Regions from separate parts of the Homo sapiens genome. Here region 1 is linked to region 2. A link means that fine-mapping ties the variant in region 2 to the expression of a gene that starts in the linked region. Tissue or cell type: lung. Region 2 holds a variant in brackets; the other region holds the start of a gene. All regions are shown on one strand. Distances are from middle to middle.

Evidence for each region.
Region 1: it holds the start of AADAC, and the variant in region 2 is fine-mapped to the expression of AADAC in lung (TOPMed, PIP above 0.99). The same link has a PIP of 0.9 or more in sun-exposed skin.

What each region holds. Positions count from the first base shown.
Region 1 is chr3:151,810,037-151,824,584 of GRCh38, reverse strand. AADAC (arylacetamide deacetylase) reads right to left here and starts at 10,469. Exons shown (of 5, transcript NM_001086.3): 1 at 10,285-10,469; 2 at 6,997-7,219; 3 at 4,133-4,202. The coding sequence starts at 10,422. The region is part of intron 1 of AADACL2-AS1 (AADACL2 antisense RNA 1); the gene reads left to right.
Region 2 is chr3:151,834,096-151,842,817 of GRCh38, reverse strand. The region is part of intron 1 of AADACL2-AS1 (AADACL2 antisense RNA 1); the gene reads left to right. Among named protein-coding and RNA genes, the nearest start is that of AADAC, 24 kb to the right of the region's middle. The variant T/G (reference allele first, on the strand shown) is at 4,245.

The DNA of each region.
Region 1 (14,548 bases), 21 kb after region 2:
TGACAAAACCGCAATAACTTTTGCACCAACCTAATACATGCTGGAGGTGCACATAAGTATATAATTTCTTTAATTTTCAAACTAAACACAGCCATATAACCAGCACTCAGATCATGAAATATAACATTGCCCGCATCCCAGAAACCTTTTGTTTACTCTCTTTAATTCCTGACGTATCCACTAATTTGACATAACAGCATAAATTAATTTTGCCTAGTTTTGGCCTTTAAATAAATAAAATCATATAGCATATACTCCTATGTATCTGGTTTCAATTGTTCAACATTATGTTTTTGAGCCTCATTCACATTGCTTCTGTCTTCCTGTATAGTACTCTATTGTTTGAATATACCACAAATCATTTACCCATTAACATGTTGATGGGCTAAGTGAAATAAGCCACTCATGGAAGAACAAATACTGTATGTTTCCACTTATATAAGGTGTCTAAAATAGTCAAATTCATAGAATCAGAGTGAAAAGATGGTTGCAAGGGCTGTGGGGAGGAGGAAATGGGGAGTTACTGATCAGCTGGCATAAAGTTTCAGTCAAACAAGTTGAATAAGCTCCACAGATCTGCTGTACAACATTGTACCTACAGTCAAAAATAATGCAAATTTAAAAATTCACTAAGAGGGTAGATCACATATTAAATGTTCTTATAAATAATTAAACAAACAATAAATACTAAATAAATATTTTTCCAAGTAAAAAAATGTTATGGGGATTTAGGCTGCTTGCAGTCTTGGGCACAAACAGTGCTGCTATGAATATTCTAGTACATGTTTTTTGGGGCCCTATGGCTGTGTTCCTGTTGATACATACCTGTGCTATTGATAATAACAGAGGTATGCATATATGCTTAGCTTTACTTAATAATGTCAAAGAGTTTTGCTAAGTAGTTTACCAAGTTATTCTCAAACTAGAGCTTATGGAAGTGCTGTTGATTCAAAACCTTACCAACACTTGGTATCTTATGTCTTTCTCATTTTATCTATAATCTCGAGTATATGCAGGTATCTTATAATAGTCTTAATTTGTATTTTCCTGATGTATACAGTACATTTTCATATATTGTTTGATGATTTCAATATCCTTTTCTGTAAATTGTCTTTCTGAGTCTTTCGCCTATACTTCTATTAATTGGTAGGTGTTTTTATATTTTGGATTTGAAAATGTATATATGTATTTAAAAACTTTTATAGTATACATATGTCTATACCCACATATATATACACACACAAACTTTAAGACTTCTATTAATGTCTTTTGATGAACATAATTTCTTAATTTTTTTTTTTTGCGGGGAGACAGAGTCTAGTTCTGTTGCCCAGGCTGGAGTCCAGTGGCACAATCTCGGCTCACCGCAACCTCCCACTCCCAGGTTCAAGCAATTCTCCTGCCTCAGCCTCCCGCGTAGCTGGGATTACAGGTGCCCACCACCACACCCGGCTAATTTTTGTATTTTTAGTAGAGATGGAGTTTCACCACGTTGGCCAGGCTGGTCTCAAACTCCTGATCTCATGATCCACCTGCCTCGGCCTCCCAAAGTGCTGGGATTACAGGCATGAGCCACTGCACCCAGCCTGAATTTTTAATATAACCATTTTACTGAGATATTCATAACCTATAAAATTAACACATTAAAAGTATGCCCTTAATTTTTAATATAACCATTTTACCGAGATATTCATAACCCATAAAATTAACACATTATAAGTATGCAATTCAGTGATTTTCAATATATTCAGAGTTGTGCAACCATTGCCACAATCAATTTTGGAAGATTTTCCTCATGCCAAAAGGAAATCCTATACCCATTAGTAGTCACTTCTCATTTCTCCCCATCCTCCAAACCCAATCATAGGCAACCATTAATCTACATTCTATCTCTATGCATTTGCCCTATTTTGGACATTTTATATAAATGGAATCACAAAACTTTCCATTTATGACTGGCTTGTTTCATCTAGCATAATATTTTCAAAATTTGTCCATACTGTAGTGGTCCTTTTATTAACAAATGAATAATTAACTGATAAATGGATGAATAAAATGTGGTATATTTACACAACTGAATATGTGTATAGATATGCCACATTTTATTTAAATATTCAATTGAATTTCAAATATTCAATTGTATAGATATACCACATTTTATTCATCCATTTATCAGTTAATGAACATTGGGTTGCTTCCACTTTTAAGGTTTATGAATACTGCTTCTGTGAACATACAAGTTTTTATATGGGCATGTTTTCATTTCTCTTGTGTATACACCTAGAAATGGAAATACTGGGTCAATATGGTAACTCTGTTTGAACTTTTAAGGAGCTGCCGAAGTGTTTATTCCCACCAGCAGTATAGAGGATTCTGATTTTTCCATGTCCCCACTAACGCTTGTTATTATCTTTTTAAATATATATATTATACCCATCCTAGTGGGTGTGAAGTGGTATTTCATTGTGGTTTTGATTTGCATTTCTCTAATGACTAATGATATTGAGCATCTTTTCATGTGCTTATTGGTCATTTTAATTTAAATATAACCAAAATTATCTATCTTTTAATATTGGAGTTCTTCATCTTTAATATAAATAAAATGAGATTATTTGAAGGCAAAGCATATATTTGCATAAATATTTTAAAGTATATTTTATCTTTCAAGTACATGAAAGATGCTTATTGGCCATTTTAATTTAAATATAACCAAAATTATCTATCTTTGAATACTGGAGTTCTTCATCTTTAATATAAATAAAATGAGAATATTTGAAGGCAAGGCATATATTTGCATAAATATTTTAAAGTATATTTTATCTTTCATGTACTAGTGATTTATTAGTCATTGCAATGAATTAAACACAGATGTCGGTCTTATACTATAATTTGACTTGCCATGTTTAAGAAAATTCTCTTTAAGTATAAAGTTGGAATGCAAAACAGCATAAGCTTGGATTTTCTAATTGCATTTTACAAAATATTATTCTAGCCACTATATTTATGAGTGATCACATACAACCAAATATTGATCAAGATTATGTCCCAACTTTATAATAATGATTTAACTTGACAAATGGTGATGAGTATGTTATTTTTTTAACTGTTCATTTACTCTCTGAAATTTCAATTTAAATATATACTGCTCTGGCATGAGTCTACCCAGCAATCCGCCCCTAATTTTGCTGTCCCTAAGTGCTCTTTCCATAGGTGGATTATTTATCTAACATAATTTTATATGAACTCATCTATTTTGTTTAATTTGATAATACATTTTTAATATACTTAGCGCAGTGTATAACACTTGTTGAGCCTAAACTATACGCTATATTTTAAATATTTAAAATTATATAGCCTACATTTTAGGCTCACCAAGTGCTATATACGCTGGACTCTGTTTCAAGGATGTTATCACTTACTCTTCACAGTGACCATCTGAGATGGAAATTATTTATGATGCACTTTTATAGATGATCCTGTGACTCCAGGGCACTCATTTTTAAAGACTGGGAATTAAGGGTTGAAAGGAAATACCGTCCAGGTAATTATATCCATAAATGATACAGTTTGAATTTATGTGAAAAAAATTTTTACTTTTTGCTGTTTCTTTTTGCCAAAATAACACGTGTACACACATATACAGATTTTTTTTTCTCAACTCTAATCAGGTTAAGCCTAGCACTCACTTGCAGTTGCCTACTTAGTGTCATCTGAGAAACATTTATTTTTGGCATGATCATGCATTGGCTGAGAAAGCTGAGAGAATCGGCTGAGCGCGGTGGCTCACGCCTGTAATCCCAGCACTTTGGGAAGCCAAGGAGGGTGGATCATCTGAGGTCAGGAGTTTAAGACACGCCTGACCAACATGGTGAAACCCCATCTCTACCGAAAATAAAAAAATTAGCCGGGTGTGGTGACTCGTGCCTGTAATCCCAGCTACTCGGGAGGCTGAGGTATGAGAATCACTTGAACCCGGGAGGAGGAGGTTGCAGGGAGCCGAGATCCTGCCACTGCACTCCAGCCTGGGTGACAGGGTGAGACTCCATCACAAAAAAAAAAAAAAAAAAAGAAAGCTGAGAAAATCTTGGCATGTCAGACATCTGGCCAGGAAACCAAACAGCACAGCTCTTACTTGGTTGATACGACGACAGCATCAAGTCTGTCTGCTGTCCATCTTGACAGCAAGTCATAACCACTTAGAGCTGAAATAAAAGGATAAAAGCAACATATTAGTAAAACAGACAAATGAAGACAAGGCTGTTTCCTTCACAAAAATCCTGCTGCACTTCTTTCACGTTCTGGCAGTTCTATTTTACCTTAAAATACGAGAGACAAATTTAACACTGTATTTATAAGAAGCCATCCATTCATGACTCAGTGGAATTCAAGTTTCCCAGTGAACCTCCTAATGCTCTTCCTCCCTTTTATCTTTTGTCTTGCACATTTTGCCATTGATCCTTCTGTGTCAGACTCATTCTCTAGATTAACCCAACTGTGTATACTGGAAGGAGGTACTGATTTGGCTCTGTTTTAGATGATGGGTATACAAAGATAAAAAGACAAGTCGCTAACTTGATCAATACGTTGTCAGATATGTGAGCCAAGGAGATATAGACAGAATTGTTGCAATATAGAAGGATCACCTAAGTCTGCATGGGACAATAGAAAAGGCACCTGAATATAAGTGGAATAGAACTAGGTCCCCTTAAACAAACACTGGAACTTACTGCTTGCATCTGTACTACTACTTTAAGAATGTATCTAGCTGAGGCCTCTCTTTGCCTCTTTTTCTCTTGTCTAAGAGGAAGACGTAATGCTCTTTTTTTCCATTTCCAACCTTCCTATCTATATCCAATTATTTTACTAGTGCTCTAAATCTTCTTCCCTTTCATTTCCTCTGGGATGTGTATCTATCAGTCAACACTCCCAGCCCATTACTTGGCTAACATATTTCTACTTATTGCCTTCATTTATTTCAGTCTACCAACTTGTTTATATTTCTCCTGCACAAAAATAAAAGAAAATTCTCCTACTTAACTCTCATTTCAATCTATAATTTTCTTGCTTATTTATTTCACAACTAAGTCCTTTTAAGGCCAGCAATTATTCTAACCATTTTATTTTCTTCCCTCTCACTTTTTGCTTGCTGTAATGTGTTTCTCTGTGAATATCCCATCATGTCAGCAAGTCTCTCCTCAACAATATTAACATAGAAAGTTCAACATCCAAGAGACATACTTCCATCCTACTTACTTGACATCTCTACACGATGCAGGACTTCTATTATTTCCTCTTTCTTGAGGTTCTCACCTTCTTCGGCTTTCTTTTCATTTTCTGACATTTTTGACCACCTCAGTGCTTTGCTGTCTGCTTATTCCTTCACCCAACAATTTTGTTTGCATTCCCCAGAAATCTGTTCTCACCCTCCCAGTCATCCTGTCAGAAATGAGGCACTCATTCAGATCTATTTTTTTAATCTTCTGTCTTTTTCTCCTCTAACTTCCCACATCAATGGACAAATTTGCTTAATTTCAAGCCTGTAACCTTTTCTTTTCAGGACTAATTTATTCTTCCTCTCTAGAGTTCAGAGTTCTTAACTTAGTAGGTCCAGTCCAATCTTCACTCCTCCAGTTAATCTATACTGTATTCATTGGAGGTAAACAGATGAATCTCAAGAGCCCTAGGACTCAGGTGGGTTAGGTGATTTTCTCACATAATTGGGACTTTTATCCCAGTGCTTCCACTTCTAAATGTTTTTGTCTTTCTGCTGTAATTCTATACATCAAGAAATATACAACCTTCACACCCAATCTTGATTACTCTTGCCAAATAAACTAAGTTTAGCCTAAAGCTGCCTCTTTGCATATTTTAAAGGTTTCTTGATACACAGTGAGTTGTAACTTAATTGGATGTGTAATCTACTCTTGTCCCAATCACTGAGTTTCAGCCAAAGGTAACCAACTTGTGGAACCAGTTTCAAATAAGGCAAACGCTGAGCTGTAACCAATCCGCCTATTTCTGTGCCTCACTTCTGTTTTCTGAATGTCACTTTCCTTTTTCTACCTATAACTCTTCTTCGACCAGGAGGCAGCGCTGGTGACTCTCTGAACCTATTCTGGTTCAGGAGGGTGCCTGATCCACAAGTAGTTCTTTGCTCAATTAAACTCTGTTAAATTTAATTTGTCTAAGGTTTTTCTTCTAACATTCTGGCCTATTATTTCCTACATTTATCACTTTAAAACACACTGTATTATTTACTTATTTATCGATCAAAGATTGTCTCCATTAGAATGTAAGATCCAAGAATACAGGAAGACAGGATTTTTTTCTTTTTTTTTTTTTTTGAGGCAGAGTCTTGCTCTGTTGCCCAGGCTGGAGTGCAACGGTGCAATCTTGGCTCACTGCGACCTCCGCCTCCTGGGTTCAAGTGATTATCCTGCCTCAGCCCCCCGAGTAGCTGGGATAATGTGTGCCCGCCACCACACCCGGCTAATTTTTGTATTGTTTTAGTAGATACAGGGTTTCACCATGTTGGCCAGGCTGGTCTCAAACTCCTGACCTCAAGTTATCCACCCGCCTTGGCCTCCCAAAGTGCTGGGATTACAGGCGTGAGGAAATTTTGTCAATTCAAAAATATATTCAAAGATATAAAAATATTACCAGACATATAGTAAATATGAGTAAATGGATGAAAACATTAAATGGTTCTGTAATATCAAGTGGAGAATGATAGAAATAACAAGGCTTTCTTAGAGTAATTGTGATAAATAGAAAAAAAAAGTTTCTTCTCACCTCTACCTGGGTTGATGAGGAAATGCATATGTGGAAAAGAGTGATATAAAGCTTCAGGGAAAAGTAAAACTTTGCCAGAACAAAGCACGAGAAGATAAAAGAGGCAGTAATGTCCATGCCGAAGGGCATGTGTACCTACTGAAGACTTAGTAAAATGTCTGCGAACTACCTCAGTGACAGAGATTTTTCAAAGCATTCACTTACCAGCACTTCCCACGCACCAGCCTCCACCATGGATGTAAAACAACCCCCTTCTTAGTGCTTCAGACTTTCTCTTTGGCACATATACCCGAACAAGAATGTTGTTGAATTTTGTCTCAGTCACAGTGACATTTTCATCTGAGGTTGGTGGGACTTCATCAAAGCTCCCGACAACCTTAAAGGAATCCATAAAATGGTGAAGTCCCAGGAGCTCCACAAATGTAGCCTAAAAATGAAATTCACAAACCTCCTGAAATTCAAGTATCAAATGGCAAAGAGATCTATGGACTTATAGGTAGACATTAACCCTTAATAAACTCAAATGGAATGAACTAAATTTTCATGCATGAATCCTGCTTGGTCCTTTTAAAAGAAACCAGAAATGCAAAGGTTATGCCTAGGGTGGTTCTTAAAAAAGAGGGAATACACTGTGAAGGAAATAAAAATATTTCATCCCAAAATATATCTCCTTGACATAATGCAAGGTAGCTTTTCAGAAGGGCTGGAAATACAAGATTAGCTGGAAAGCTTTTCTTTTGTGGAGGTGATTTGCATCTGTAGAGAAAATCTGCATTGATGGCTTCTGAGAGCCTTCATTTGTCCAGATCTAGGAAAAATCAACTGAGAATCTGACACCTTTAAAAGTCTGAAAGAAATTTTTACCATCTGTTCTCTCTGAGGGCTGCTACCTGTGAGGATCCATCTATATAACAAGACCACTTTTGCTAACCATGTCTCCTCTTCTCTCCTTCCCATAACCTGTCTTGCCACCATATCATTTTTTGGCCAAGCCACCATTCTTTCTGTAACCTCAAGATAGTAAAAAAAAAGTGTCAACCATCTGGCCATTTCTTTGAGATTTTATATTTTGTAAGTCTATTATGTATGCTAAAAATGTATATGCCTTTTTCTTCTATTAACCAGACCTGTCAGTTGACTTTCAGCAACTTTCAGAGGGCAAAGATGAAGTTTTATTGTGACCCCTGCTACTAATTTAGTTCCTATGTCACTAAAATGTGTCAGGCTCTCTACCAAGCTTTACGGTTTCAGAGATGAACCAGACAAATGCTCTTCTCAAGAATCTCAGAGTTAAGTGTGAAAGACAAATAAATGGTTACAAAACAATGTAAATACTATTACAGAGCTCTGTACAAAGTACTTTGGGAGCGAACAGCAGGTGATTACAAAAAGCTACTTGGGAGTAGAAACTGGAAAAGCAATTTTGTCTGAGGCTTGAAATAAATACCTTTTCCTAAGTCTTTTGCTAACCAAATAAGAAAAGGAAAAACCCTGGCAGGTCGAGGAACTGGTTTAGTTTAGAAATAGGGAGGTGCAGTGAGGTGTGGCTATGGAGCTGGTTGCACATGGGAGCTGGGAGTCAGGGTTGGGAGGGAAGGAATGAGTGGGAGAAAAAGGGAGGGCAGCTTGCCTGCCTGCAGCCCATCCTTTCACTGTAGAATGAGTCAGTGTTCTGAGCACTCTATTGTAGTCATCTCAGTAATATTAACAACTTGCTTATATGGGAGGAAGATAACATTTTCTTATCCATGTCAGATATGAGGAAAGTGAGCCCAGGAAGGTTAAATATGTCGTCCATGCCTACACAACTAGTAAATGATATTTACCAGGATTCTCAATCCAGTAGTTTGATTCTTGATGTAATGTTCATAACATAATCCTTTAATAAAGGGTATGAACACTCAAAGATTGCCAGACATTTCAGAGAAGCCAGCAAAACTAATCAGGAAAAAAGGGACAAACCAGGAGCATAAACGATCACAAAAAAGCAAGCAAACAAACAAGCAGATAATTCAGGAATAAGAAAGGGCATTAAAACAACTTTTAAAAGGTATATCGACTGAGAGCTCTGAAAATACATTACTTTCATAAATTGTGGACAGAATGTAAGTAAATGAATGAATTAATTAATTAAAAGGCTACCAGAGAAGAATATATATATAATTGCTTAAATAAATAAAAATTAATATAAAGACTCCAAGAAAAAAATCAAAGACCTCTCACATATTGTAGCACAGACAGCAAATATGAGGGAAAAAAATGTGTCCCTTTCTTAAAGCTCTTTAATAGCTCTGCATCACATACAGAATTAAATCAAAACTTACTACCAGTGCCCACAAAGCACTGTATGATATGGCTTCTAACCTCTCCAAACTAATTGCAACAATTTCCCCATTAAACCCAAATGTTTCATATGATTTCTTGGACTTGTCAATATTCTGTAGCTGGGGTGTTTTTACTTGTTGGTGTCTCTGCTGGAAAACATTTTTCTTAGCACTTAGAATGGTTGGTTTCTTTTCATTCTTCTGGTCCCTAAGTAGCTGTTTCCTCTTCAGAATGGCTTTTTCTCACCATGCATACAGTAGCCCACTCTTGCCTTCTGCCCAAATTACTCTCTTTTCTTCCATCTTACCTCCTTAAAGGTACTTCTCATGAACTAAAATCATTTATTCATTTAATTCTAATTTATTTTTTTCTCCACCACTAGAATGTCAACTGTGTGGGGATAGACTACTTGTTTGCCTAATAGGATTTGAGACAGTTGAATTGTTGAATAAATGCAAAATAAAAGATTAATCCAGGAGTTACAACATTTATCTGGTTTAAGTTCTGAAAAGAGATTTGTTTTAATGAAGATAATAAAATAACCAAAGAAGTAATAGTAAAATATCATCAAGGATCCAGAGAGAGCTACACCTTTTTAATTTGCCAGCATCCAAGCTGCCCAGTTGCCAGGACACCCAGGTCTCCCTCCCCCTCTCATTTGTGCATATTGTGCCGTCTCGTGGTTAACCCTAGGCATGTGCCAACCAGCCTGCCCATTGAATCTTTTCTTGAGAACTTATTTACGTGTCCTTAGTCTATATTCTGAATCCCAAAGATAAGTGCATAAAAATCTGTAACTAACACAGTGCTGCATAATCAGATGATCTCTAATTTGAGTATAAAATTTAAGGAACAAACCATACCTAAGATAAGAATTTCAAAGGAGAGCCACTATCGTGATATTAAAGCTACCTAAACAAAGTACTTTTTAGCAAAACCTATTCAAATGACTCCTTGCTTGCTGTTCTTGATATTTTTTTAACATGATTCCAATACATAAGACAGAAAACAAACAACATTTCTAAGTAACACATTGTCAAAGGCCACAGCAGTTATTTTAAAAGATGAATAAGTCAATAAATCAAAAGAATAGAATCTTGAAAAACTTAATTCTCTGGGTCAAATGGTGGTGTATGCACATCTGAATTCATAAAATTCCAAACTTACCAAATTTTGTATAGTTTTCAGATGTGCGTTTATCCACATCATTCTCCATGGCTCCTCAACGTTATCTGGGAGAGGCGTATAAATATAATATGCTATGAGGATCCCCACAATCAGAAGGTACAGCGATTTTCTTCCCATGGTGAACGTCCCGCTTCTTGGTCTCTAGAAACACAGAAAGTAAACCTACATGATATGCCTGAATAGTGTACTTTAATAAGCAGTGTGCTTCAGCTCCACCCAAAAGCTTTGAAAACAGAGTTGCTCACTTAGTTTAAGGGTTGGCATAATAAGGCCAAAATTTTATCTGTTATCCAGATACAGTCATGTTAAGTGCAACTTCAAGGTTTAATGAGTAATAGGAAACTAGGGCAAAGTTTGTCAATGATCATGCTGTTATCTGTATTCCAATAAACAGCATGTATTGAGTAATAACTCGGGAACAAATTCTTTAACTCTAACAAAATTATCCATAGAAAACATACAGAATTCAGAATCTTTGTTTTAAAATAGCTTATCATGGAAAAAACAAATTATATATATACACACACACATATATATACATATATATGTGTGTGTGTATATATATATATTTTTTGATACAGAATCTTCCTCTGTCACCCAGGCTGAGTCCATAAGAAGCGTTTTGTGTCAATAAGTAGTTTGTTTGAGGGTGTGTTAGGCAGTGGGATTTCCATGCATTGGGAAGTGGGGACGGGGTTTAGGCAAGTGTTCCACCCTGCGATTTCTATGCAGGGCCTGTGTCAGTTATTGCAGAATCCTGATGTTTCTCCCGTGACTTGGGTCTGACGGGGGTTGGAGATTTTGAGAGTTTGTGTGGGGTTTTTTTCTGTTATTGTTTGGATGCCTGTCGGGGGAGTGAGTGTTAGGGTACAGTTGCATAAGCTAGAGGAGAGGGTGCCTAGGGGCACTCCTTTGGAAAGTTCACGCTTTATGCATAGGGATGCTGGTTGACTGAGTTCTGAGTCTGGGGTAAGTGTTCCTAAGATAACCTTGTGTTCTGCAGTATGTGTGGTAAGATTGAGTTTGTAACTTTTGAGTGCATTTACTTCTCCAAAACTTTGGTAGCGGGGGTGGAGGGTCATATTGCTGAGAACCCAGTCTTTGAGGGGAGCTGGGAAGACATCTTTTGATACGGTTTCTGAGGGGTGTACCAGCAGGCCTTGGCCAGGGAGGGGTTAGTTTGACTGAGTATCATATGTGCCTGTGGAATGGTGCGCTGTAGGTGGAGCGGTAGCGAGAAGGAGGAGGGAAGAAGGAGTAAATAGACAGAGAGCAAGTGTAAAGGTAAAGAATTCGGCTTCATCTGGAGTGAATTCCTGTAAATCCCCTTGAAATATAAGATTGGTGATCCAATCAAGGAATGCTGTGAGGGTGGGATGTTCTGGGTAGGACCATGAAAGGTTTTCTGTGATGCAGTGAAGGAAGAGTGTGAAATGCCAGGATGGGCAAAGACAGGACATTTAGGAGGGGCCACTATCTGTTGGTGGTGGCTATTATACCTGCTATGAGGAGGATTATGAGGCAAGAGGTTACGAATATTGAGTTTTTTTTGTCTGAAATTCCACCCAGGAGGCAAGACAGTATATATTCCTATGGCAAAGAGTAGAGTAAGTAGGGTGATTCCTGCAAGGGCAGCGTAATGGATGATTTCCATTAATAAGGGTTTGGATACTTAATGGTAAGGGGTGATAACTTATCTGCTATGGTTCATGAGGGAAGAGTGGGGTCTTCAGGCATGGGCGTTAGGCGGAGTCGAATTGGTCTGAGAAGAGTGCTGGAGTATTTGCAGGGAACAGCTGGTTGGTTAGTTGGTGATGGGTCAGCTGCAGGTGCTCTTTTTAACCTGGAAAGATGGTACCAAGACTTGTGTTCTCAAAGTTTGGCTGCAGTGGAGGTAGCGAGAAGGACTTGGAAAGGGATTTCGCACTTTGGCATGAGACTTGTTGATTTTTAGGAAGACATATTCTCCTGGAAGGAGTGTTTGGTCAGTGGTGCCTTGGTGGGGTTTTGTGGGGGCCTGGTCAGCTTGTTCGCAGAGGAGATGATGGATGAGGGAGAGTGTTGGGAGGTATTCTAATTGATACTCAGGAGGGGGTCTGTTTTGTAAGAGGAAAGGGCATCCATACATTAAGTCGAATGGACTGAGGAAGGAGGGGGCCTTTGGACTGGCTCTGATATGAGCCAGTGCTATGGGTAAAATGGAGGTCTAAGGTTTTTTAACCTCAAGTGTGAGTTTGGTTAACTGAGTTTTGAGAATTCCATTTGCCCTTTGGACTTTTCCAGATGACTGGGGCTGGTATGGGATATGGAGGCACCACTGAACACCAAGGGATTGAGAGACTTGTTGGGTAATTTGGGAGATGAAGCTAGGCCCATTATCTGATTGTATGGAACAAGGGAGACCAAATCTAGGGATGATTTTTGTTATGAGAATTTGAGAGATTTTTCTGAAGGGGTAGGAAATGCTTCTACCCAACCTGAAAAAGTGTCTATGAGAGTAAGAAAATATTTAGTTTTTTTGACAGGAGGCATGTGGGTGAAGTCTACTTGCCAGTCCTCCCCTGGGAGTGTTCCTCTGAGCTGATGTGTAGGGATGAGGAGAGGGCGGAGGGCCCCTTGGGAGGAAGTAACAGAGCATATATGACAGTTTGAGGTTATGTCCTTTAGTGAGGTGAATAGATGGGGGGAGGAGAAATAAGGGTGAAGGAGTAGGTACAGGGGGCGCCCACTGATATGGAAGGATTGGTGAAGAGATGTTGGAATTTCCTTGGTTTGCTCTTGGGGAAGAATGAGCTTTTGGTTTTTGATTATCCAGTCCCCTTGAAGGGAGGCTCCTTGCTGTAGTAGTGAAGAGTTTTTGGTGGGAGAGTATCTGGGTTGGACTGCTGGGGTGACAAGGAGGATGGGGGCAGGGATAGGAGAAAGAGAGGCCTGTTTCGGTGCTCATCAGCCTATTTCCTCTTGAGATTTCATCTGAACCTGCTTACTGTCCTCGACAGTGTATGACTCCTGCTTCAGTTGGGAGGTGTGCAGCCTGAAGGAGTTGGTAAATAAGGGGGCCATTAGTAATGAGGGTTCCTTTGGCAGTAAGGAATTTTTTCTCTTACCAGATGGCGGCATGAGAATGAAGAATGTGGTAGGCATACTTGGAGTCTGTGTATATGTTGACCTGTTTGTCCTTGGAGAGGGTTAGGGCTCTTGTGAGAGCTGAGTTCTGCTTTCTGGGAGGAGGTTTCTGGGGGTAGGGGTTTAGCCTCAATTACATGGTTTAAGGTAACTACTGCATACCCAACAATTTTGGGAGAGCCGGGGGCTCTGGAAGAGGAGTCATCTATAAATAGTTGGTCATCTGGATTAGTGAGAGGCTTGGAGGAGATGTTAGGGAATTGTGGCTGCAAGTGATCCAGAATGTCAGTGCAAGAATGAGTAGGAGGGGAAGAGGATATGGGAAGTAGGGATGCCAGGTTGAGGGGGGCACTTTTGGCAAGGCTGAATTCAGGATTTTTGATAAAGAGGGCGTAGAGCGACTGAATTTGGGAAGGAGAGAGGGAGCTTAATGCCCAGGAGGAGAGGAGATCCTGTAAGTTGTGAGGGCTGTGAATGGTGGTGCTTTGGCCAAATGTTAGTTTTTTGCTTTCCAGAGGCAAAACGGCCACTGCTGATGATGCTTTAAGACAGGTTGGCTGCCCTTTGACAGTGTTGTCTAGTTGTTTACAGAGATATGCTACAGGGTCAAAGGAAGGAGGATTTCCCTTTTGTTGCCCTAAGACCCCAAGAGCTATTCCTTGATTTTTGGTGGTATAGAGAACAAAGGGTTGGGAGAGGTCGGGTAAGGACAGGGCAGGTGCAGTGATGAGAGCAGTTTGGAGTTTACAGAAACTGGGAAGTATGTTGTGTATGGGGCTTAGGGGTTCATTGAGGGGGCCTTTGGCTGCTTCGTAGAGGGGTTGAGCCAGGAGGGCAAAGTTGGGAATCCATATTCTAAAGAAACCTTCTAGTCTTAAGAAAGAGAGAATTTCATTTTTTGAGGAAGGCAGAGGCAAGCTGTTTATTAAGGTTGCTTGTGCTGGGGTCATGGCTTGGGCCCCAGGGGAGAGTTGGACTCCTAAGTATGTTACTGTTGGGGCAGATAGTTGGGCTTTGGAGGGGGAGACCCTATATCTTTTGCTAGAAAGAGAGTTTAGTAGGGTGATGGTGTGAGTTTGGAGTCCTCTAGGGAGGGGCTGCAAAGAAGGAGGTCATC
Region 2 (8,722 bases):
CCCTCTACTTTGGGAGGCAGAGTCGGGAGGATCCCTTGAGCCCAGGAGTTCAAGACCAGCCTGGGAACATGGCAAAACCCTGGTCTCTACAGAAAATAGCAAAGTTAGCCTGGCATGGTGGCACACGCCTGTAGTCCCAGCCACTCCAGAGGCTGATACGGGAGAATCACCTGAGCCTGGGGAGGATAAGGCTGAGCCATAATTGCACTGCTGCACTCTAGCCAGGATGACAGAGTGAGACCCTGTCTCAAAACAAAAACAAACCCAGAAAACAAAAAATAAAATGAAAAACCCCCAAAACAAACAAAAAATAAATATTGGTAACTAATTATATTGGCTCCCAAAAATAAGAATTCTGTATTTGACAATTTTTGAATTCTGCTTTTTTTTTTTAGTGATCTTTACAAATTTGTGGGCTTTGAACTATTTGTTAGCAGAGACAGAGTTTGAACCCATGATTGTTATTAGTAGATGATCTTAGTAATTATTTGATTAAAATAAACACACATTAGAAGCTCAACAGATATTAGTCTTTCTACTTGCCATCTATTTCCTTCTGCTTTGAGTTATTACAATTGATTAGTCCAAATACTCTGAACCATCTTTACGTTTGGAGTATGTTCATTCTGCAACTGATCAGCAATCTATCTTTCTTTTGATAAATTGCTCTTAATAATGTTCAGTCCATTCATTAATAACTTCATTTTTGCATAGGTTCAATTATTTTGAAACCACAAGGGAGCGACTTTTGTGTTTGTGGAGTGTATTTCCTTGAAATGTTTAACATTCTTTGCTTCTGTATCATTGATGTCACGAATCCTTTTAATGTTTTGACTTTTCTTTTCTCTCGGAGTTTATGACATCTCTTCTGTTACATGCTGACAAAGAGCACTATAGATTAACATCATTTTGTTAGAAATTTTAGCAAGCTCTTCCTGGAGGTTTTCCTTCACAAACACTGTTACTGCTTGGGTTTAGACGTCAAATGCATTATCGTCTAAATCGCTCTACTTCTTTCAAGATGCTTATAGGAGTTGAGCACACAAACCTAATAGAGGAAAAGCAATTTTGTCTTTTTTTTTTTCAGTGTGCTGCTTTCTGCTGGTAGCTTCATTTAAAGCAAGTGAGCATCACATTTTTAAATCAATATTAAATGCTGAAAGGAATTTGAGAAACGTTTCTCAAATTTGGGCACTTGTGGACTATCAAGAGTACCTATGAGGACTACAAAGATTTTTCAATTTTAAAAATTCAAAACCTCGACTTTAGGTTTTGGTTTCATGGCTGTGCCCAGTTATAAAGTGGTCATCTAAATGATCCACAATTTGTGTATGTGTTTATATTACCATAATTATAAAAACAAAGCACAGTCATCCCTTCATAGTCATGAGTTATACATCTGTGGATTCAACCAATCCTGGATCAAAAATACATTTTTTTGAATCGCATCTGCACTAAACATATGCAGACATTTTTTCTTGTCATATTCCTTAAACAACATGGTATAATAACTATTTACATATCATTTACATTGGATGAGGTATTATAAGTAACCTAGAGCTTATTTAAAGTACAGTTATGTGCTACATATTGATGTTTTAGACCACATATACAATGGTGGCCCCATAACATTCTAATGAAGCTGAAAATTTTCTACTGTCTAGTGATATCACAGCCATTTTAACATTATAGTGCATGGCATTGCCTTTGCTATGTTTAAATATGTTTAGATACACTAATACAGTTGTATTCCAATTGCCTGTGGTATTTAGTACCCTAACATGCTGTACAGGTTTGCAGCCTAGAAGTGATAGGGCTGTACCATATAGCCTAGGTGTATAGTCGGCTATATCATCTAGGTTTGTGTAAGTACATTCTATGAAATTCACGCAACAAAAAAATTGCTTAACAACATTTCTCAGAATGTATCCCTATGGTTAAGTGATTCATGACTGAATAGAGGAGGATTTGCATATAATCTATAGAGGAGGATTTGCTTAGATTATATGCAAATACTATGCCATTTTATAACAGGAACTTGAGCATCAATAGATTTTGGTATTTGCAAATACTATGCCATTTTATAACAGGAACTTGAGCATCAATGGATTTTGGTATTTGTGAGAGGTCCTGGAATCAATTCCCTAGAGATACTGAGGGAAAACTGTACTTTAAAATTCTACTGGACCACTTGTGGACACATAAGCAGATCTGTAGACCTCAGTTCAAAAAAATATTGACCAGCTGATATAGTACCATTTCATAGGCGAGAAAACTAAATCCAAAGAGGCGTGGGAACCTTGTCCAGGATCACCAAAGAGTTACAGAGAGATGTGTTGGTAAGAAAATTGTGAGTGTGTGTGTATGTGTGTGTGTGTGCACACATGCGCGTGGGCCTGTATGAGCATGTAACTTAGTTTGTACCACCTGGTTTTACTTTGCTTTCTATCTTGAAACAATGTATTGAACTTTACTTAAAGGTTATGGTCATACTGAATCCTGGAACACTACTTGAGAAAATGGTATTATAATTAATCGAAATATTAGTGTTTATTCTTTGTCTTATTTTTTGTAAGAATCTACTCATCCAATTAAACATGGAAAGCCAAAAGTGTATTGTACTGCCAAAAATGAAAAAACAACATATGCCTGAATTCATGGAAGGACTGTGTGTAATGTAGAAGATAAAATGAAACATATGGAATATGTAATAAAAAACAAAATCAAGCATATTGATTATAGTTACCTAGTGATTGCCTATTTAAATACTAAAAATTTAAGAATTTAATTTAAAAGACATCAACAATATTTATCTATTAGTTATAAAATATGCCAGGAGATGGTTATCACAGGATACCTTTTAATCTACAAATGTTGAAATTTTAAGTTTAGGCAAATCAAGGAATGACAATGACATCGGCAATGAAGTTCAGATCTTCAAACTTGCAGTATCTCCATCGGAGCAATTTTCAATTACAAGAAGATAATGTAGTTAATGTGCCTCTTCGTCTCTCCAATAATAGTAATGCAGTTTATTTTTACAAAGAAGTCATAAATGCTTTCCATTCTATACATGGAACATTAAATAAATGCAAAAAAAACCCACCTCAGCTAGATTGTTTCAGATAGCATTTTTTGACAATTGCTTTATAGTTCCAATTTCTATGAGGCTTATATAGTAATTTATTTTCTTTTTCTTTTCTTTTGAGAGATGGAGCCTCCCTCTCTCAGCCCAGGCTGGAGCACAGTGGCATAATGATGGCAGTTCACTGAAACTTGAAACTCCTTGGCTCAAAGGATCCTGCCATCTCAGCCTGCTGAGAGGCTGGGACTATGGCACCATCCCTGGCTAATTGTTTTAGAGACAGACTCTCGCTATGTTGCCCAGGATGGGTAATTTCATTCTTAAAAAGAATTTTAGGAATTAAAGGAAATATCTTCTTTCAATTTATTTAGAGGTGTAAGTTTTGAGATATTTATTTATAATTTTAAATGCTTTTGTTTGATAAACTAAAGCAAGTTTAGACATTTTTCTAAACCACATTAAAGGAATTATTAAAACATGATTTTATTGGATATCTAACTTTATCACGTTAGCTTATGCTGGGTAACAGCTTTCTGGAGCCCACAAGGGGGCAGACTAAGAACGTATGAAAGAAAACAATCCTTACGCTGTAGTCACTAACTGGCGGAGTTCCGTTCCAACTGAATGCATTTGGCTTTATTTCCTTTTTACTGAATTTTATCTTATTTTCTTCTGACCGAAAGCAATTTCAGTTTCTTTGCACTGTATTGGAAAATTGAGCACTTAAAAATCTAAACTCATTTGACGATACGCATCTTCTCTCTTATTGTCTTCTAAGTGAAAACTGTACGGAAATCATACATGATTAAGCTGAAGAAGTAAATTGTAATAATTTCTAATCCATTATTTTACATTAATTTTTAAATAATAGTTTGTTTGTTTGTTTGTTTATTTTGAGACAGAGTCTCGCTCTGTTGCCCAGGCTGAGGTGCAGTGGCGCAATCTCGGCGCAATCTCTGCTCAGTGCCACCTCCACCTCCTGGGTTCAAGTGATTCTCCTGCCTCAGCCTCCCGAGTAGTCTGGACTACAGGCGCGTTCCATCATGCCTGGCTAATTTTTTGTATTTTTAGTAGAGATAGGATTTCACCATGTTAGCCAGGATGGTCTCCATCTCCTGACCTCGTGATCCGCCCACCTCGGCTTCCCAAAGTGCTGAGA[T/G]TACAGGCATAATTTGCTTATTTTCAAAAGAAAACGACAAAATAACTGTCATTTTTAATATCAATTGTATAAATCAGTATTTTATTAATAAACGGTTCTGGCATTCTTGCATTTCCTTTAGTTTTATTGTGTCCTTGTAATTCGATTGCAACCTTTAAACATCTCTCTGTATTTACCAGAAGATTATTTGATTAGTTAATAAAATATTTTCTAACAGGAGCTGTTTTTGGCAGGGAGGTATTATTTTTATCTTTGCTCATATATTTCACACTGGTAATCATGTGTAACAATTTTGAGACTAAACTATTGAAAGTCATTCTTTAGCAAATAAAGTAAAATCTCTTTTTAATTGATTCTTAATCATTAAAATAATTTTCAAAATATTTTCAAGGAATATGTCCAACTTCGATTCACTGTAAATAAATGAGATTTAGCTAATATACTAATGCATGTTACTTCTAATTTAATTAGATTAAAAATAGAATTCATCTAACAGTCTATATACTTAAATATATTCAAGCAAAGTGTTTTACTTAAATTAGTATAAAGTATGAAGTTTCTTATTTCCTAAGCCAATCTTCAATTCCAAATTACTGATTGAGTTCTAGCTCATGTATATAACTTCTCGTATACTCCAGGGAGCCACAGTTTAATCTTATTGACAATTTCTTTGTTTGAGATTTTATGTATATGTGTATACCTATATATACACACACATACATATGTACATATATGCATATGTGTACACGCTATATGTTCATATTTGGTATTTAATTTATAGAATAAATATTTTAAAGGTTATAAAGTTGTGATTAGATCTCTAAATAGATACTATGTATCTTTACTTAAGGATAAAGCGTATGCAGGAGAAAAATTTTCCAAGATTTGAAATGGTCATAGCTGAAAGGCCAATTTACATGTAATCCTGTTAAATTGGTCCTCACCCTCAGAAAGTTAAGAAGCGTTTGAAAAAAGATGCATTCTCTAAACTTCGAGTATTTTACAGGCATAGAATTTTAAAGCTGACACATAGTGAACATTGCACTATTAGGATGAGCCACTTTTTAGGGAAGGGAGTTTAATCACCAGAGAGCATAATTCTGGGAACTCTTGAAGATCAGAAGACTGTAACTTTTAGCTTTAGTAATTTAGAGTTAAAAAGAACATGAAGTTTCTTTTTGGATGGCATGAACTAATACTGGTATGCCTGGTTCATCCAGAAGCAGTTAGAACATGTCTTTCCAGGTCTCGGAAGTAGAAGGGACTGCAGGTTTGCTGAGTCATAACACCATATGGCATAATAGCAGGGCTCCTTGAAGAGCGAGTCACCTCGTGAAGACTTTGTGGGAGGTCGAAACCTTTGGAGAATCTGAAGGCTCAGCTTGAAAGGGAAGAGTGACATTGTGTCATCAAGAGATAAATGAAGAGTATGTTTGATAAAGAGTTCAGCTGACTGGTGTTTTACTTTACTTGTAAGAAAGAGGGCTCACTCAGATACAACCTCCAAATGAAGTCAATGGATGTTCACTAAGAAAAAACAGCTCTAGAATGAAACACTCAGCCTTCTTTTGCAGGCTTGTAGTCTTTTTCAGCACTTTAAAAGTACTGACAACGGTGCCTCTTGTTTTAAAGAAATTGGCAAATGAGAGAGAAGCCTCCTCTCAGCCTCCTCTTGATTTTTTATAAGAGACTTCAGTTTTAAAGAATCTTGGACTTTCCAAAATGGGCTATTTTTAATTTTATAACAATGCTCAAGCCTAGGGAGAGGAGGAGCTAAGAATTTTTGAAATGCCATTGGAAATAATTCCAGCCCTAATTAATCTCTTTTTGGCATCAAGAGAAAGAAATTGTGAATATTTATTCTAAGAGAATAATTTAAAGTACTGGTACCAAGATTAGACCCCGTTTAACAATAATATAATATAAAATAAACTTGAAAAACTCCGGGAAAGCTATGAAAAGTTTATTTTATTTTATTTTTTAATTTAATTTTATTTATTTTCAATACTGCTCCTCCTGTAAATGAAAAATTTTAAAGGCTAGAAGGCTAGACATAAGTTACATGAAACAATCAACAAGGTTTAGTGATTTTTTGGCATTTGGTAACAACCAGCAGCTGTGGTTTTTTTGAGGTTAAAATGGTCACCAGCCACAGCTGTGTGCTTTTTTTCCCACTGCTTCCTTTTGACGGGTTGCTGGGCAGATATTCCTCAGGTCCAGGTTAAAGAGCTCAGAGCACAGAGGAAATCAAAATCTTCTCCTGGATCCTGCGTGTCATGCCCCCTCTGGCACCTGGTGAGTTTCTAAATGCCTGAGCACCTTTTTGGTTTACTGGGTATTTGTGCAGCTCAAATTCCCTCCTGCCGCTCCCCAACACATACACTTAGGGCCAAAGCAACATACCAATTTGCAGTGATTCATTGCAGAATGTTAAATGCTTTTTCCACTATTGAGGTACATCAGAAGTGGTATTGATTTGTTTATATGGTAAAGAAACTAAGCATAATTAACTCTTGATTATCCACGTTGCACACTATTAACAACAGAGCTGTGGATCTTTGCGGCAGTCTCAGGAATCTTGAGATTTTCCTGAGGTTACCTAGTTAGTGGTTTTATACTTAATCTGGTATTTGTATGATTCAGATTCCCTTGTTTTCCTACCACCCTTTCTAAGAAAGCAAAAAGTAGTCTCCAAAATCCTTAAGCAATTGATGGCAAAGCCTTTGAAACTGGCCTATGGGGGTTGGCTTCCAGCTCTGCCACTTATTAGCCATGGGACCTTGGAAACCCATGTAAATTCAATTTCTTCCTTTTCCTTCTCTGCAAAATACCTATTAATATTGTTGTCAGCCGGGAGCGGTGGCTCACGCCTGTAATCCCAGCACTTGGGGAGGCTGAGGAGGGCGGATCACCTGAGGTCAGGAGTTCAAGACCAGCCTGGCCAACATGGCGAAACCCCGTCTCTACTAAAAAATACAAAAATTAGACGGGTGTGGTGGTGGGTGCCTGTGATCCCAGCTGCTCCAGAAGCGGAGGCAGGAGAATCTCTTGAACCCGGGAGGCGGAGGTTACAGTGAGCCGAGATCGCGCCACTGCACTCCAGCCTGGGCAACAGAGTGAGACTCCATCTCAAAAAAAAAAAAAAAAAAAAAAAAAAAAAAAAAATATATATATATATATATATATATATATGTATACTTATATATATATTTTATATATGTCAAAAAATATATGTATATTTTTATATATACTACATATATTGTTTACCTAATGAAATTGTGAAAACTAAATGTGTGCACACACGTATTTATATATTCATTTAGTTCTATGATATATACATATATACATATATGTATGTGTATATCTGTATCTATCTGTCTATCTATCTATCTATCTATCTATCTATCTATCTATCTGTAGGATTTTCTAAGATATATATTTCCTAAAGTAAAGTCTGATGAATATTATTGGTGGGTGATAAATATTACTACTGGGAAATTGAAACACTTAAATGGTGTTGGAACTCTGTACATGAAAAGAAATGTTCCTCACTCTCTAAGTCAGTGTTTCTTGATCTTCCTGTACATTGAAATCTTGTGAAGAGCTTCAAAAAAATACTGATGCTTAGGCCATACCTTCAGAGATTGAGACATAATAATAGCTCAAGGTGTGGCTTCAGCAAATGATGTTTTAAAACTCTCGTGTGATAGTAATATGAGACCACTGCCCTATGTCATAAAGGAATGACTTGACTTCACCCTTATATTTTAAGGTTGGGGAAGGAAAAAGGAAGTTACAGAAAGTAACTGCATGAGCCACAGGTTTTTAGGAGACTATCTGACACTTTTTCACATCTTATTTTTAGCATTGACAGAACCAATTACCCCCTTCCTCTTGAAATTCTTATGTCCCTGCAAATTCCTCAGAGACACTCCCCTAGTTTTTTTGCAGCTTCTCAGGCCACACAATCACTGCAGGTATAGCCAGGGCCTCATTCTGTTTCCATTTAGTGTCTCTGCAGTCCACCTACCACACTGTTCTCCTAAAGATCATATCACGTACTGCATCAATCAGAGCAACCTTCAGTGTATTTGGCTCAGCAGCCCAGGCTCCTCAGAACTTCACTTCTCCAGCCAGCTTCCCTGCCTTCTACTCTCTAGGAAAGATGTCAAAGGATGAAGTGAACTATGTGGTTTACTGCCTCCAGGATCTCCAAAGCATTGTTTCTCCTGTTGCAAATGCTTTCCCATAGCTATCCTCTTCACTGGGGACTCCTGTTTGTTCCTCCAAATTCAGGGCAAGTGTCAAGGTTTTCTTGGCAGTATGCTTCCTTCCTTCTTTCCAGTCTGAAGAACAAAATTCTTATTTCTATCAATTGAAGTGGTTAATATATTTATCTTTCTCTGTCACCAGATTGGTTTTATTTCAAATGTTCTTTTTTTGGAATCATCTAAGGGCTTCTTGATGAAGGAAAATTC